2 separate regions of the Homo sapiens genome follow, and region 2 is linked to region 1. The links come from fine-mapping of genetic effects on gene expression. A gene starts in region 1. The other region holds a variant in brackets. All regions are shown on one strand. Distances are from middle to middle.

Region 1 (5,391 bases):
TTATTTTCGGCATGGCTTAAACATAGAGAAAGTAAAGTATACTATATTCCAATATTATTTAGTACACAGAGAGGAAAGTATTTGGCTTCAGTTATCGATAATGCATTTTAATTGTTAACTTTTTATCTGTTGGTATATAGGCATGACCAAAGGACATTGAGTCACATGTAAGAAAAATGCTATTTTATCTTTTAATAGTTCTGATTGCATCAATGAGAAAGTTAATCATATTCCATTTAAATCATCTCACATCCAAAATCATCTTGCCTATTTCTGATAGTACGGTTTTCACATTTGCAGACATACCATCAATATTTCCCAGTGGGAATCAACGAGTGCAGGGTAGAGCAGAATTTGCTATCTTTTACTCTGATGTTATCTTCTTATTTAAAACAGCTGCAGAAATACAGATTATGAAGGTTGGGTTAATAAAAGGCAAATATAACTAATGATGAAGCCTGAAAAAAAATTTAATGTCTTTTCCACACTTTTGAAATTCTGGATTACTTTTCTTTTATTCAATATCTTTTTATTTTCTAGAGAAAATGGAAAGTGAAACCCAAGTCAGATAAAGTAAGTTCAATTGTGTTCTATTCTGTTAGAAAATTGAAAAGTTGGCACTTTTAGTGCCTGAATTCCTTCAGATATTAAACTCCAAACTTCTACTTTCTGAAGTAAATTAAGTTAATATATCCTTAATAGAATAAATGCAATTCTAAATAGTGAATAAATTTCACATTATGATTTATTTTGGGAAAACCTTGTTTCAATTTTATAAGCAGAAGAAAGGAAAGGAAATGTTAAAATCTGTGGAAAAGTTGTAGATTCCTGGAGCCACTTTTATTTCATGATTGTGAAAGTTAAATCACAAATATATTGCAAGTAAAAAAATTTCTACAATAATACTTTCTAGAGAAGTTTCTAAACAACAAAAGAACCCCCAAAACACAAACCCACAACTTCCTTTTGGCTTCAGTACTATTTGGATATTACCCTAATTGTGAAGGCAAAACCCCACCCTTCTCCTGAAGTATAAAGTAGGCCTTCTTTCTCCCTTGGGGCATTACTCTTGGTTGGGGAAGAACATCTCAATTAATAAATCTTTACACACTGAGGGTATGTGGACATCATAGTAGCAAAATTTCGGCCTGGGCCAGGCATGAATGTGAAATAGATGTATATTTTGTCCCCCCAGACTCTAGCTTCTTGATATTCCAGCCCATAGATTCTCTCTGTGCTTCACTCTGGTGACCAATGGAACATTTTCCGTTAAAACCTGGACAAATCTGAGACTCACTGATACCGAAGGGCAAGTCTTGGCATTCAAATCCAGGATTTCAGGATGTTCTGTGCAGAACACCCCATAACCCTGACTATTCCAAGTGAATTCAAAATAGATAAAATACACTTTTTTTTTAGAAAAACCATTTTCAACTTACATCAGTTTTTTCTTATTAATGAAAAACAACAAAAAAAACAAACAGTTTTTGGTTTACACATATTTGTGTTCTCTTTGAAAAAAAAAAATTTAATAATAAAAGGAGAAAATCCTGAAAGTCCTCATTACACTTCCCTCTCTTCATTCTTCCAACCCACTCTTTCTAACACATATTTAGAAACTTTCTAGTTAACTTCAGAAGCAATCTCAGAATCGGGTTCTTGCTGAGCAAGGGTGAGCTCCCATGTCTTATGTTTCCTCTTGACATTTTAATAAACTTTCATCAGTGTAAGTAATTGTAACATATCTCTTCACAGACAGCCTGAAGAAGCTAGCAGGCTGAAGCAATGGATTGATTGAACTTAACCACTCAAGCTAGGAGTACATTTACTGGCAGGTGTTATACAGATATGTAATATAAAATCTCAACCTGAGTACACGTCCATGCAAACCAACAAAAAATAAGCCATGCATGTAAGAATAGTCTATGCTTTCCAAGTTCTTCACTATGATCCATGTACTAAAAATCACAACTTCATTGTGTTGCCTGCTCCATTTCCCCATCCTGCCCTTTCTAGAAGTTGCTGGATAAAACTCCTGCTGCCTCTAGCATCAGGGGTGCGTTACTTTTTCTCTTGTAGGGCTTCCCCCAGGACTTTGCTCCTCCTTGGGCATTTTCGTTGGGAGGCTGCCTCTGAGAAATTGGGGGACTTGGAGCCAAATGGCGATTCCTCTGTCTAAGTAGTAGAAGTGACCGCAGCTCGGCTGCTAGTAAAGATTGCCCTTGGTTTCTGAGAAATTCTGACTCCCTAAGTTCATTTGGCAGCCGGCGGCTTCTCTGAAACAAAGCCAGCAAACAGCTGGAGCGTCTCTGGACACTCACATTAAAACTTGTGAAGAGTTAAAAGCCCCAGGGAAGAGCCAGGCCAAGGGCACGGGTCAGCGCCGGCTTAAAAGACCCTCTCAGGGCACGAGGCGTTCGCTGCGGGAATCCACCTGCAGCTGTGCGGCGCGGACCAGGGCGTGCGGCGCGGACCAGGGCTTCCGGCGCGCGCTCTATCCAACTGCGCCGCGGGCGCCCGAGAGGCGCGCGTTTACTGCGCTCAGGAGCTCGGTGCAGCCTCTTCTGGAGAGTTGGGGGCGGTTTCCAGGGTCCGGAGTGTCCCCTGACCCCGGGAAAGCTGGGTAAGTATGCGGTGCGGGGACTTGGGGCCTGAGGCAGGCGGGGGAGGAAACCTCGAGTAGACAGGTGGATGTGAGAAGGATTCTCCTTTCTGGTGATTTGCACCTGTTGACGCCCCCAAATCTGAGCTCTAAGGAATTTTACAGATGGTTAAGACAGGTTCTGAAAGGTAGACTCAGAATTCGAAAGGACCTTAGAGCAGTGCTATCCGAAGTGTGATGCAAGGACTAATAGCATCGCCTTGCCCTTGAAACTTGTTAGAAATGCAAATTCCTGGACCCCACAAAACCCTGTTGAACCAGAATCTCTGGGAATGGGGATAAGGAATGTGTATTTTAACAATCCTCCACGGGATTCTGATGCAGCTAAAGTTTGAGAACCATTGCCTTAGAAGTCACTTAGTCCTACATTTGAGCCCCTAGCCCCAATGCAGGAACCCCCAAATAAACAGCAATGGGTGTGTAGGTAATGAGTCAAAGGCATTAGATACTGGGGTGTATTCAGTTATAAAAATAACTTCTAAACACTCTTGGTTTGTGGGAATTCTATTCTGTCCCAAACGAAACTGTGATCTTTGAGATTTCCTAAGAACAGCACTCAGAGCTTCAACAACTATTTCTGAGTTTGTACTGTGTGCAAGTCTCCAGGTAAGGTTCTTTCAAAGTGCTGGAGGGAATTTTGTACTCTCAGGATCCCCAAGCTGGTAGCGTGTTATTTCTCTTACCAGGATCTTCATAAGTTGATGTAGTGCTTCATACATCACATTTATTTTGTTTTTTGGTATTCAACTGCTTGTTCTGAAATTAATCATTGTTAACTCAGGGTGTCAGGTTAGGTATCTTGGAAGATATATATTTACTTTGTGAATTCTGAACAAAAATCCTTAAGAAAAAATTCACACTGCAAGATTTTTTTCCATTTTTTCTATTTAAGTTTACAGTGCTACAATTTACCAATAGAATAAGTAGGAATCCTGAGATTTCATATGAATTAAAGTAGAGAAGATAATTCCCAAGTTTTTAAATAACTCCTTCAGATGAGGCAGGCTCTTCATCACTGCTGAGAACCTGAGCCATTAATCTTTGATGACGAATGAATGGTTTTGTGTTGTTATTATTATTCTCCTTTCAGTGGCTTAACTTAAAATATGAAATCTAAATCCACTGCTGACTTACTTGGAGACTCTGGAGCAAATTTATTTGCAGATATTTCTCAGTTTTCCCTTTTCTTCAATGGGTGGGTGCAGGATGTAAGGTTTTGATAGGGAACCTGCTAGCATTATCTTAAAGTAGTTCCCCGGAGGACCCTGTGTGGTTATGATATTGAACTATTATTAATATGTTAAAGCATAGAAAACATTCAATACAATGATTTTATATTTAATTATTTTATATATATATATTAAGTTAAAACATCTAAAAGGCTTTTTCACAGATTTCAAAAACTAATCACCTCTCTGTTTGAAAAGAACTTTGGAAATGTCAGTAAAATTGGGAGCCATTGCTAGCAATGTTATGAGCCTGTGAAAATAAAGTTTGCCACTGTAAATATTTCCCATCTTGAATCATAGCTACATGCAGAAATTGTTCATAAGTATTCAATGAGCATATGCTTAGCATCCTTCTATAATGAAGTGTAAGGCTGACACATATGTCTTGTTTGCATTGTATTTCATGTTGTGATTTTCCTTCCTCAAGTTCAAATCATCTTCCAAAAAGGAAGAATTTTCAACCCCGGAGCATATACTCAGAATCCTCCAGCTCTGAGAGTGGAGGGCACAAATTCACTTGGAATGTGTACTTTTCTTGGTATTGCAGTTTGCTTTGATGATGCCCCTGTCAATCTTGTAGGATCTCAGATCCAGTACACACTGAGCAAGTGGAAAGTGCAAAGGAAGAGGAGTTGGGCACTGGGCAAAGTTGGGATCTAAGATAAAACGAGATGCATGCCTACTTTATGAGGAAGGGCTGACTGGTGGTGCATGTGGCAGTTGCAAACATTTTTGTTGCCCCATCAATCCCTGGTGCTTTATGATACTTCCCTAAATTCCTCTGGCCTATTCCCTAACATGCACACAACTCACTACCCACAACCATTGCCACTTGCCATTCTCCAAGGAACCATTCTTTTTTATTTTTAATTTTACTTTAAGTTCTGAGATACATGTGCTGAACATGCAGGTTTGTTACATAGGTATACATGTGCCATGGTGGTTTACTGCACCTATCAACCCATCATCTAGGTTTTAAGCCCCACATGCATTAGGCATTTGTCCTAATGCTCTCCCTTCCCTTTCCCCCAACTCCCTGACAGGCCCTGGTGTGTGATGTTCCCCTCCCTGTGTCCAGGTGTTCTCATTGTTCAACTCCCACTTATGAGTGACAACATGCGGTGTTTGGTTTTCTGTTCTTGTGTTAGTTTGCTGAGGATGATGGATTCCAGCTTTATCCATGTCCCTGCAAAGGACATAAACTCATTCTTTTTTATGGCTGCATAGTATTCCATGGTGTATATGTGCCACATTTTCTTTATCCAGTCTATCATTGATGGGCATTTGAGTTGGTTCCAAGTCTTTGCTATTTGTAAATAGTGCTTCAATAAACATGTGTGCATGTATCTTTATAGTAGAATGATTTATAATCCTTTGGATATGTACCCAGTAATGAGATCGCTGAGTCAATTGGTATTTCTGGTTCTAGATCCTTGAGGAATCGCCATACTGTCTTCCACAATGGTTGAACTAATTTATACTCCCACCAACAGTGTAAAA
Region 2 (5,391 bases), 95 kb after region 1:
ACCTATAACATTGTAGGCATTCAATAAATATTTGTTGAATGAATGAGTGAATGAGTGAATGAATGAATGAATGAATGAAGAGCATGGGGTTTACTCCTATGAATAAACTTCCTTGGTTTACCAGGTCAACATCTAGTCTTTACATGTGGGACCAACAAGGTCAAATACAAAATAACACCCAAAGCATCCAATTTAATAAAAATAGAGAGTAGGAATGTAGTAAATAGTTTCTAAACATATGGCTGGAATGATTATAAATATTTTCCAATGTTGATTCAGCACTTTACAGAAAAACAGAGGGTTTGGATTTTCTAGCCCTTTAATTTGCTCAGAGAGAAAGAGAAAAAGCATGAACATCTTTGTTGATGGAGAGATAGCCTCCTCACCACCTGGGAATGATAGATTTCTTTCATAATAAAAGTATCTGTTTTGCATGGTGCCTCACATAGAGTAAATGCCCAATAAAGAGTTATTGACTCACTGAATGAATGAATGAGTGCTGTATATTGCCCATTACAGTGAGTATTAAAGTATTTTAAAAAGTAATCAGGAAATAAGAAATCAGACAGTGTACCACCAGGAATTTTGAATAAAATTCTGTCCATTGCTTTTTGAAATAGACTTTTAAGTGGAATTTGTGATTGAGAGGGTCCTCTTGACAACTGAGAGATGTGCCTTCTTCTAGATAGAGTGGACTGGAAATAGTTGGGATCACTACCCACGGAGGCCAAAGGAAGCTTGGGAACGTACAATTTCTGCAGGGCCCAACTTCAAAAGCTGGCATGTGGTGTATAATCAGCTGGTGCATAATCAGAAGTGTGTACAAATTTAGTCCAGAATTGCAGGCTTGGAAATGATAGATTTTAATACTTGCCCCAGTGAGTGAATCTGGTCAGGTTATCTCATGGCAGTTTTCTCATCATAATCTAGGGATGATGATACTTGTTCTATAGATACTTTTTGTGTTATGTTTGGGATAAGCAGGGGATTGTGTGTGTGTGTGTGTGTGTGTGTGTGTGTGTGTGTGTGAACATGCACTGAATGGAGCAAAGAGCTATAATGCAAGGTAATAGTGATTAGTTGGGTGTTTTTTAAACTAATCCTTAAAGTGGTTTCCTACTAGTGACTAAAAACAATGAGCAAACATGCGTTCACTTCTTTTCCAATGCAGTTTGACAACACTGGAACATTTCAGGTGATTCCAGTTCCTCCAAATGGGGAAAATCAAACATTAGAAAGACTTCGGCGCTGTGCACTTTGCTATGGTAAGACCAATGAAGAGAATTGACTGTGCTGAAGAGCTTAAATGCCTTCTAGATGAGTTATTGAATGTGGTTTTATCCAGAGATTTCTATTTTTAATCATAGGTTCTATTTTCAGTTTTCTAGTTTTTCAATACCATATGTCATGGTTTCAATCTCTGGAATGTTTGGAGTTTCCATAGAATGTGAAAATTGGTTTAGAAAATTATCCCAACCAATGTAGCATTTCTTGGGGACAATTGGGTAGTTTGTATCAGAAGTCTCTAAAATATCAAAAATATTTCCTAAATGAGCTTGGACATGACTTGTACACTGCAGGTATCTGTGCTACCTACATCTGCTTTCAACAAAGCCCTTCCCTTATTGTCTGCTAGTGCCCGGAGAAGTACCGGGACATTGAAAATTTCTCATTAATTTAAATTATGTGAGATCAAAGAGATATTGATCAAATTATAATTCTTGGTAATTAGTCACTGAGTCACTTGAAGATCTCAAACAAGTGTCTTGTTGGGTCAGTGTTGAACCAATGATGTGTCTCTCTGTGTGTTTTCAGATAAATGTTTTCCAAATGCTTGCATTCGAGAGGCTTTCTTACCTGAAGATTCATACATGGATGTAGTCTTCCTCATAGACAATTCTCGGAATATAGCAAAGGATGAGTTTAAGGCTGTGAAAGCCTTGGTGAGCTCAGTGATTGACAACTTCAACATTGCTTCAGACCCTTTAATCTCAGACTCTGGTGATAGGATTGCTTTGTTGAGCTATTCTCCTTGGGAAAGTTCCAGGAGAAAGATGGGTACAGTAAAAACAGAGTTTGATTTCATCACTTATGACAACCAACTCCTAATGAAGAATCACATCCAGACTTCCTTC[C/T]AACAGCTAAATGGAGAAGCAACAATTGGTCGTGCCCTACTGTGGACCACTGAAAATCTTTTTCCAGAAACACCCTATCTAAGAAAACACAAGGTCATCTTTGTGGTCTCAGCTGGAGAAAATTATGAGAGAAAAGAATTTGTAAAAATGATGGCTTTGAGGGCTAAGTGTCAAGGCTACGTCATATTTGTGATTTCTCTGGGCTCTACACGTAAGGATGACATGGAGGAGTTAGCCAGCTACCCACTTGATCAACACCTGATACAGCTTGGGAGAATACATAAACCAGATCTGAATTATATTGCGAAGTTCTTAAAGCCATTTTTATACTCGGTCAGGCGTAAGTTATTATTTCATTGTTTGTCTTTTTTTTAATAAGCTAGTGTTTGTTAATACAGTATTGATAACCTATTTTTGTATCTATAGCTAATCTAAACATAATTTATGAATTAGATGGTGAGATAGGGGCAGGAATGGATCATTTGCTGGTTATACCCTGTTTATATCCTGGTCACAAAATGGTGAGGCCTGAGGCCTTTTTTTATGATAGTGTGTCTTTTAGCCAAACTCTCAGCACTAGAAAGCCACAGAGTGACTAGAGGTCGTATGAATCACATTTGCTCAAGAAGTTCTAGCAGCAGTTAGGTGATTTCAGAAGAACATTCACGTAAAAGTTTTACTTGCTATACCTGTTTTATTTCCAACTTTGGCACACCCTGGAGACCTGTGTGAGGATGTGAAGATAGCAAAGTCCTGGGCATGCACATCACCCAGGAATCTTGTTAAAATGCAGGATATTCTTACTGAGGATATCTAGGGTGAAGCCTGAGATTCTACATTTCTAACAGATACTGCAGTAATGTCAATGCTGCTGGTTCATGGATCACATGGCTCTAGGCCAGTGCACTACAAAGGGTTGCTCATTGCATGAGTGCCAGGCTACAAATTGATGTATAAAGAAATAAACACACAAATTGAGAGTAAACATCTAGAAACTTTTAAGGCAATTTGACATTGATTGCTGCAGCGTACAGTTGCATGACCAGTGGACTCTGTCTCATTGAACAGGATGTATCAGTCTGCAAAGAACTAGAAATAAGAATACCTCGTCCTCTATCACAGATGGTTTGGAAAAATGCTCTTCTAGAGCAATTGTTCTCAATATGGCACAATTTGCCCCAGGGGACATTTGGAAATGCCTGGAGGCATTATTTGACAGTCACAACTTGGGGATGCTACTAGTATCAAGTAAATAGAGGTCAGGGATATTGCTAAACATCCTACAATTCACAGGACAGACCCCCCACCACAACAAAGAATAATACATCCCCAAAAGTCAATAACACTGATGTTGAGAAACACTTCTCCATAATATCCCACAGAATCAGAGCTGAACCTTTTCTTTCTGGAAATCTGACAGGTTTAGAAGTAAACTTGGCTGGAATTAATTCCACCACTCTACAATCCCAGTTTCCTTGCTATTCAAAGGATCACCCCACAACACCACAGTGATAATGTCTTGAGCCTTCACTCTTCATTGCAAGGAGAGCTCCACCTTTCTCCTGTGATTCATATTCAATTAAAGAATCCAATAATTGCCCTCTTGGGAACACTGTTATTTCTTTACATCTAAGATGCCCTCAATTGTATAATGTAAAGGAAAAAAATGTTTCCAATTAAATTTTGATACCAACTTTCCTATTAGAGCATTTTGTTTTATAGCAATTGAAAGAGTTCTTTTGGATGTATAGTAAATATATCACTCCTGTGCATGCATAAAAAGAAAATCTATGTGAAATAGGCAGGTTAAGGCACTCCTAAAACAACTTCTGATTCAGAATTTGACTCTTGTGAGCTACTTCTTGGCTCAGAGTCATTGGTATCCATTTTTTTCTATGCAATTTTGTTCTTTGTGCCATTAAGATTGATGATTATGCAATATTTGTAAAAGACTATAAAACAACTCAAAGATGGTCATGCTGGGCTGTTAAGTGGCTTTGCAATCATGTAGAAGTAGCCTACTGTTGACTTCCAGCTGGGAAGTGTTAAACACACCCAATTCGCTGCCTTCCCACAACCACTTGGTTTGTAGGAGTGAAAAGGCTCCTCTGCTGGTATTTATGGGAATGTTTTCAAACTGCTCTCCCCAATTCTACAAGTTTTGGTGCTGGCATGTTTGCTGTTCCCACATGCACAGGCAATGACCACTGCATCACAATTCTTGCCCACCCAACAGTAAGTGTCAGATGCAATTAATCAGAAGATATATTTTCATTTTAAAGAAATAGAAAAAAGGAAAGAAATGCTTATCTTAGTATTTGAAAATGTGATTATTATAAAACTACAGATGTTATTTGAGATATTTTCATAGATCCTTGGATCAGTCAATGGCTGAAGGCCTTCTTTAACTAAAATCTTTTATTTTCCAGAATGGGACAGGGTAACATACTTCTCCATATTCCAAAATTTATAGAACAACATCAGGAAGGGGATAAATAGGCATATTATTTAGACCAGTAAGGTAAAATCTTGTCTATGATTCTTTTCCTCATAGGAATCAGTATTAGTGGGTGCAGAAGCACAGAAATGATATCAGTATCAAGTAATGAAACATTACCTTGTCTCTGTTTGATCCGTTAGCGTAAGTCTGGGTGAAAAACCTTTGATGAATCAGAATAGAGTATCTCTTAGATTATGTTAGCCTGAGCATGTGAAAATCATGTTTCCCTGCATCACAACTAGCTCTTAGATGAACAATTTGAGGAGGTCTGTTTCCATGACTCTGGTAATCCTTTGGCTGCTAAAACACTCTGAAATCAAATTTTGAGTGCTATTTCTAACTGCTGTTTTCTGTTTTCACCCCAGCCAAATTTTGCTGAAATATGTTAGTGACATTAGTTGCTTCAAGAGGATTCCTGTTGGGATTCTCTTTACCTAGGAAACATCATTTCCAGTTTTAAAATCTAACTATAACTTTGTTCTCTCAATAGGGGGATTCAATCAGTACCCACCACCGATGCTTGAGGATGCCTGTAGACTCATCAATTTAGGAGGAGAGAATATTCAAAATGATGGTTTCCAGTAAGTTAGAAAGCTCTTATATTTACAAGTGACTGCTAATTGGCTGATGGGAGTATAACTGGTTAATAACACTTTATTAGGCTGATGATGCTAACAAGGTCTCTGAAGTAGACATTTTATGTATTCCATTTTCCATAGCAGAAATTACATATCAAGTATGATTTCCAATTTGTTT

The links. PIP is the estimated chance that this variant, and not a neighbour inherited with it, causes the effect.
Region 2: its variant is fine-mapped to the expression of COL6A5 in lung (TOPMed, PIP above 0.99).

Annotation. Positions count from the first base shown.
Region 1 is chr3:130,343,359-130,348,749 of GRCh38, forward strand. It overlaps COL6A5 (collagen type VI alpha 5 chain), which reads left to right and starts at 2,314. Exons shown (of 41, transcript NM_001278298.2): 1 at 2,314-2,623.
Region 2 is chr3:130,438,351-130,443,741 of GRCh38, forward strand. It overlaps COL6A5 (collagen type VI alpha 5 chain), which reads left to right. Exons shown (of 41, transcript NM_001278298.2): 34 at 1,172-1,265; 35 at 1,816-2,475; 36 at 5,126-5,216. Among named protein-coding and RNA genes, the nearest start is that of COL6A6, 76 kb to the right of the region's middle. RefSeq lists an enhancer at 3,898-4,455. The variant C/T (reference allele first, on the strand shown) is at 2,136.